Linked DNA regions of Homo sapiens. The protein of the gene in region 2 interacts with the protein of the main gene of each other region in a pairwise test. Each region holds a gene or a part of one and is shown on either strand. Other genes may lie near its edges.

Evidence for each region.
Region 1: the proteins of TBC1D20 (region 2) and ADRA1A interact in a two-hybrid assay, tested with the Homo sapiens proteins (one large-scale study listed by BioGRID and IntAct).

What each region holds. Positions count from the first base shown.
Region 1 is NC_000008.11:26,768,276-26,770,793, forward strand, and holds the end of ADRA1A (alpha-1A adrenergic receptor), read right to left. Parts: intron 2,392-2,518; coding exon 1,874-2,391; 3' UTR 534-1,873; downstream 1-533. UniProt on the Homo sapiens protein: This alpha-adrenergic receptor mediates its action by association with G proteins that activate a phosphatidylinositol-calcium second messenger system. Its effect is mediated by G(q) and G(11) proteins.
Region 2 is NC_000020.11:442,034-445,566, reverse strand, and holds part of TBC1D20 (TBC1 domain family member 20), read left to right. Parts: intron 1-436; coding exon 437-517; intron 518-3,523; coding exon 3,524-3,533. UniProt on the Homo sapiens protein: GTPase-activating protein (GAP) specific for Rab1 and Rab2 small GTPase families for which it can accelerate the intrinsic GTP hydrolysis rate by more than five orders of magnitude. Also shows GAP activity for RAB18 GTPase.

The DNA of each region.
Region 1 (2,518 bases), on a different chromosome or scaffold from region 2:
ACAGCTGCTTTGAATTTGTTAGAGGAAATTACCCTAATAGAGGAAAGAGGCCAGGCAAATGGTCTTTAGTTTTAGACCACTGATTGTTGTCGAGAATTATTCCAAAAACTTAAATTCTATTTTAAATCCTTATTGTGAAAAGACAGCCATATTTTAATTTTTACTTATAGTTACCATCTTCATCCTTAGTAATCTATAGCTTGAGCAGCCCTAATCCGAAAATCTGAAATCCGAAATGCTCTAAGATCCGAGATTGTTTGAGCACCGACATGACGCCACAGGTGGGGAATTCCACACCTGACCTCATGTCTATGGGTTGCAGTCAAAAACAGTCAATTAAAAATATTGTATAAAATTACCCTCAGGCTATGCATATGAGGTGTATATGAAACATAAATGAATTTTGTGTTTAGACTTGGGTCCCATCCCAGAGATATTTGATTATGTATATGCAAGTATTTCAAAATTTGAAAAAATCTGTAATCTGAAACACTTCTGGTTCCAGGCATTTCAGAAAAGAGATACACAAGTTCTGTACTGAGTTATTATGGTTTACCAAAATTTGGTATACATAAAGCAAAATATAGCATGTTCCCCAAGCTCTTGCAGAAAAGTAGGAATAGATGAAGTTGAGTTGACTACTGGATCTTTTACCAGAACAAATGGCCTTCTATCAAAAAATGTTTGCAAACTCCTGCGTTAGACAGTTCTTTGGTGATCCATCAGTATTGTCTGAAGCTAAGCATTAGTATTTTTCAAAGTTCGGGAATAATGTACTTGGATCATAAGGCTCATTCCAACATGCCACAGGTGAAGCTCATTCATTATGCAATAGTGAAGCAGATAAGAAGTAATGGGAGACAATCTTTTGCCTTTCAAAATATTATAAGCTCTGGATTTTCATAACAGAGTTCTGGAACAGGTAAGTGATTTGTCAAGAAAGGCTTTTGTAAGCCATGTTGAAATGGCTGTGCAGTAAGTGAACAGCCTCTATCTTTGCAAGAAATTAACAGCCACACCAACCTCTTGCTCTTTAAAGATATTAGAGAGAAAGCCTATCATCATCTGATCTTGGAACTGTTTAATGGATTTTCTCTCTAGTAGTTAAATTGAAAGAATGATGCTCAGGTCTATTGTTTTCTCTTGGGAAAAGCCATACCACCCTGGTTGGTTCTTTCAACCCTCTCCTGACCCAAGGATAGAGAACACTACATTCCAAGACATCATGAGTGCCCCTCACTCTCATCTTTGGGAAATGAGGAGCAGCATCCATTCAAAGTGCAGTCAAAGGTAAACCTCACTGCCAAGTTTCCCTCAAGCTGAGAAATTGGATGTATCAGAAAGGGTGGAGTTTCAGGACTTGCTCTAAAAATAATGTGTCTGGATCTCGGCCACCATCTTAATGCTCTTCCTCTCTAGGCCCTCTCCCCATAAATGTCAAATGTGGCTGTCAGTAGGTTGAGCCTGAAAATAAAATCCCCTCACTTCCATCAAGAAATAGCTCCAAACTTAGAGTGTGTGCTCAAAATATTCATGATGAAATCATAATCCTATATTTATAGTCTTTTGGATTGTGCATGAAATTCTGTTTCCCATGGTGGTTTTCGTTGAAGTGGGCACAGAGTGACCAAGAAAGCATTAGCTGCAGGGAAATGCTGTTCCGTATCATTCTGAACTGGTTGGTTGTGAGACACCCTCCCTCTTCCCTGTGCCCTACCCGCTGCCTGATGAGTTGGGTCTACCACCCACCCCATTCCCAGCAGGTCCCCTCTTTGATTGGTCCTGTCTTGTCCTCCAAGAAGAGCTGGCCTTCCGAGAAGGAAGTGGGGTGGGTACCTAAGATTATTCCCCTTTCCTCTGCATCTTTCCTGTCCTAGACTTCCTCCCCGTTCTCACTGAGGGAGATGGTGTGGACCTTAATGGTTGGAACTTGATGGTTCTTGTCAAGGCTGGGGGTTGAGGGCCCTACACAGCAGCAGACCTGCAAAAAGCTTTTACTTCTCACCCGGGCTGTGGTACAGGAGGATTGGTCTTTGGACACTGTAATCCTGGCAGATCCACGGGGCATGGAAGAGAAAAATTTCCATTCACAAACGCCATCCGTCTTGGAGATCCTGTAGAAGGTCTCTCTTGATCCCACGGGGATGCGCACCATGTCCTTGTGTTGCCCTTCCACGGCCTGGCTGGGCGGGTGCAGGGTGTAGCCCAGGGCATGTTTGGAAGACTGCTTTCTGCAGAGACACTGGATTCTCAAGACATTCTGAAAGGCCTTTTTGAACTCTTGGCTGGAGCATGGGTATATGATGGGGTTGATGCAGCTGTTTAGATATCCGAGCCAAAATACTATTTTAAAAACTGTTTCAGAGGGCTTGAAATCAGGGAAGAAAGACCCTGGAAGAAAACACACAGATTTATACATATTATTTGAAAGCCAGCAAGCCAATTGGCTAGGAAAACAATCAAACAGACATCTTTCTGTATTTTTAAACGGTTAAAATGATCCCAAACACATATGAGT
Region 2 (3,533 bases):
TGCTCCCACAACTTTATAGGCGTTAGGGTTTTTTTCAGTGGTCTGTTGTTCCCACATTCATGATTTTATTTGATCCTTGGAATATCCTCATTTTGTAGCTGTGGACTTTGAAATTCAGAGCAGTTCCCAGTGATGCACAGTGGCCTTCTGCACGAGGCGCCTGGCCTCCTTACGTCTTTGCTCTCCTTCCCACCCTGCTGTATTGTCTCCTGGGCAGTCTGTGCTCCCTTCTCTTAGGGTCATTGTGACTTGCAGGAAACATAATGTTTGGAACCAAACTAGGGATTCCCTGCCAAATGTTGTATCTTGAGTCATATCATCCTCTTCAGGAGAAGCTGACATGTGCCCTCTAGGCCTTTTGTGTCATCCCAGAATGTTTTGCTTCTGGTCTGGCTTCTCAGGCATTCCTGCAATAACGTGCCTTTTCCTTCAATAGGGAAGAACCTACGGCAGATGAGCAAGGACTACCAACAAGTGTTGCTGGACGTCCGGCGGTCATTGCGGCGGTTCCCTCCTGGTGAGAAGCTCTCCCGGTCCTGCCACATTTGGAAAGACTGTATCTGTTCCAGGTCATACCATGTGACCTAATATGCTGGACCCTGCCGCCTCAGGGACCTTCAGAGCTCTCCTTTTGCTGAGTCATCCTTTTCTTGACTGGTCACTTTCAGACCCCCACTGTGAAAGCCTGAACCAAAAATAATTTCTCCTGGCCTAGAGGTGGTGAATGAGAGAAGAGGTTTTTGTTTTTCCTTGAAGCCACAAAAAGGAGTTAATAAGGATTGTTAGAGCCATCAGTCTGGCATTAAAGAGCAGATTGGTGTGGAATTGGGCACCAACAAGAATGAGTAATATCTTAATTAGGTTTAAAAACGATGGTACCTTGCGCATACATATGTAAGATTCCTTAGAGGGAAGAGAGGCCATTCCCTGTTTGTGTAAGAGTATATTCCTTAATTAACAAATTAAGCAGCAATAGATAAAAAAATAAATAAATAAAAACAAAACAAACAAACAAAAAAGAATGTATTCCTAAAATTACCTCTTTATTTCAGGAAGAAAGAAAAGAAGGACCGTTGTCTCAATTTTCACAGTGAAGGGAACTGGGCAACAAACCTCACATGGATGACCTATTTTTCTTCCTCTGGCAACTCCACCTTTAGGTCATGAAGAGAGGAGAATTGCTAAAGGGAACAGGAGCCTCTAAGCTGGCTGCCTCCCTCTTCTGCACTGTGCTCTGGCCTGGCTTTTGTTGTTGAAGGGGCTGCTTTCCTGCTGGCATTCTTGCTCCCTGGACAGATTCTTGCAATACCCAGGTAGCAGTAGCCTGCCAGCGTGGTTTTGATAAAAGCACATGCCCACGGTCCATTCCCTTTTCCTAGCCTGCTGGTTTGGATGAGATCATATAGGACAGATGCCTCCCTTTTTTTTTTTTTTTTAAAGACAGAGTTTCACTCTTGTTGCAGGCTGGAGTGCAATGGCACTGTCTCAGCTCACTACAACCTCCGCCTCCCAGGTTCAGGCAGTTCTCCTGCCTCAGCCTCCCAAGTAGCTGGGATTACAGGTGCCCGCCACCACGCCCAGCTAATTTTGTGTGTGTGTGTTTTTAATAGAGATGGGGTTTCACCATGTTGGCCAGGCTGCTCTCGAACTCCTGACCTCAGGTGATGCACGTACCTCAGCCTCCCAAAGTGCTGGGATTACAGGCAAGAGCCACCCCCATTTTTTCCTAGGTAACCTGTTTTCCCTCTGAACCCTTTATTCCTCTTCCATTGATGTAATATCTGTGATACGCTTTCTGTAGGCTGAACTTACAGTGTGGCTTCATATTCTTTTTCCATTCATGGTCTTCTGGGCTTGGCTCACTGCTTTTCTGCTGAAAATTCACACAGGGTTTAATTTTTACTCTCACTCCTTTCACTGCTTCACCTATCAGCAGCCCTGGGTTTGCTTCGTTTCCTTATTTATCTTTTAGGGTATGCTTTTTATTTGAGAAGGGGTGGGGTAAATATGGGCAAGAGGTGAGTTTTGCTCTTACCTGCAATCCTTTGTCCGGTTTAGTTTGGGCCCTTACATTAGCTGCTTTCTCTCTCTGAGTATGTGTTTGTAACTGAAAGCTAATGGTGTGGAGAAGCTGTGCATGTGCCATTCTTCTAACCTGGCTCATAAGGCCAAGGCATTTTTACTGCTGGCAGCACTAGCTCCAGCAGTAAAAGAACTCCCTGAAAGAACTCCTGAGACAGGCTTCCCTATTTCCAGCTATAATACATCTTTGGATCAAGAGGATCAGTTTTTCCTGTAACGTTTGCTTTGGTTTAAAGGGGACCGTGTAACTTTAAAATTTTTTTATTTTTATATAATTTCATACTTACTGAAAGGTTGTAAAAATAGGACAAAGAATTCCCCAGATACCTTTTACCCAGATTTCCTTTTGTTTTCACATTTTACTACATTTGCTTTTTTTTTCTTGGAGACGGAGTCTTGCTCTCTCGCCCGGGCTGCAGTGCAGTGGCACGATCTCAGCTCACTGCAAGCTCTGGTTCCTGGGTTCATGCCATTCTCCTGCCTCAGCCTCCCAAGTAGCTGGGACTACAGGCGCCTGCCACCACGCCCAGCTAATTTTTTGTATTTTTTATTAGAGACGGGGTTTTTCACCATATTAGCCAGGATGGTCTCGATCTCCTGACCTCGTGATCCACCTGCCTCTGCCTCCCAAAGTGCTGGGATTACAGGCGTGAGCCACCGCGCCTGGCCTACATTTGCTTTTTTAGCTGCTTTCTGTCTTTCCTTCGCTTTACACATAGACATACACTTTTTCTCTGAACTATTTAAGAGTAAGTTGCAAACATGACATCTTTTTACCCCAAGTGTTTCAGGACATATTTCCTAAATATAAGGCTCTCATGTAATCACAGTACACTGAGCAACATCAGTAACAACACTGAAAAATAGTTAACTAATTAATCCACAGATTTTATTCACATTTCACCATTTCTTCGAGTAATGTGCTTCACTGGAAAAGGAAATATAGATTTATGCGTTTCTCATGCTGTTGTCCTATATCTTTAGCCATTTTTAATCTGGAACAGTTCCTTTGTATTGTATGAGAGTTAAATTTCTCTTCCTTTGGGGATATTGGGTATTTCTTCATTGTGAGATTGAGGTCTGTGCGCTGTTGATAGAAATCCTGCAGACATGATGCTGAGCTCTGTCAGTGCATCACCTCGGGAGGCAGAGGCCGTCTGTGGCTCCCATAGTTGAAATTCTGCAGTTAAATACTGTGTCCCAGCAGTATTAACTGCAGCAACTTGGTTAGGGTGGCATCTGCAGCTTCCCCTACTGGAAAGCTAGCAGCTGCCTTTTCCTGTATGCCAGGTGGTATCAACAGTGGATCTTGATATGCGTTGCCAAATTATTTGTAATTCATTTTCCTTTTTTCTCTGAAAATTCATTGCTGGCCTTCTTCGACCTCCTTGTTAACTAGGCTGCTTGGTATGTTCAAAGGCATCTCTGTTCCTGTCCCCAGGCATGCCAGA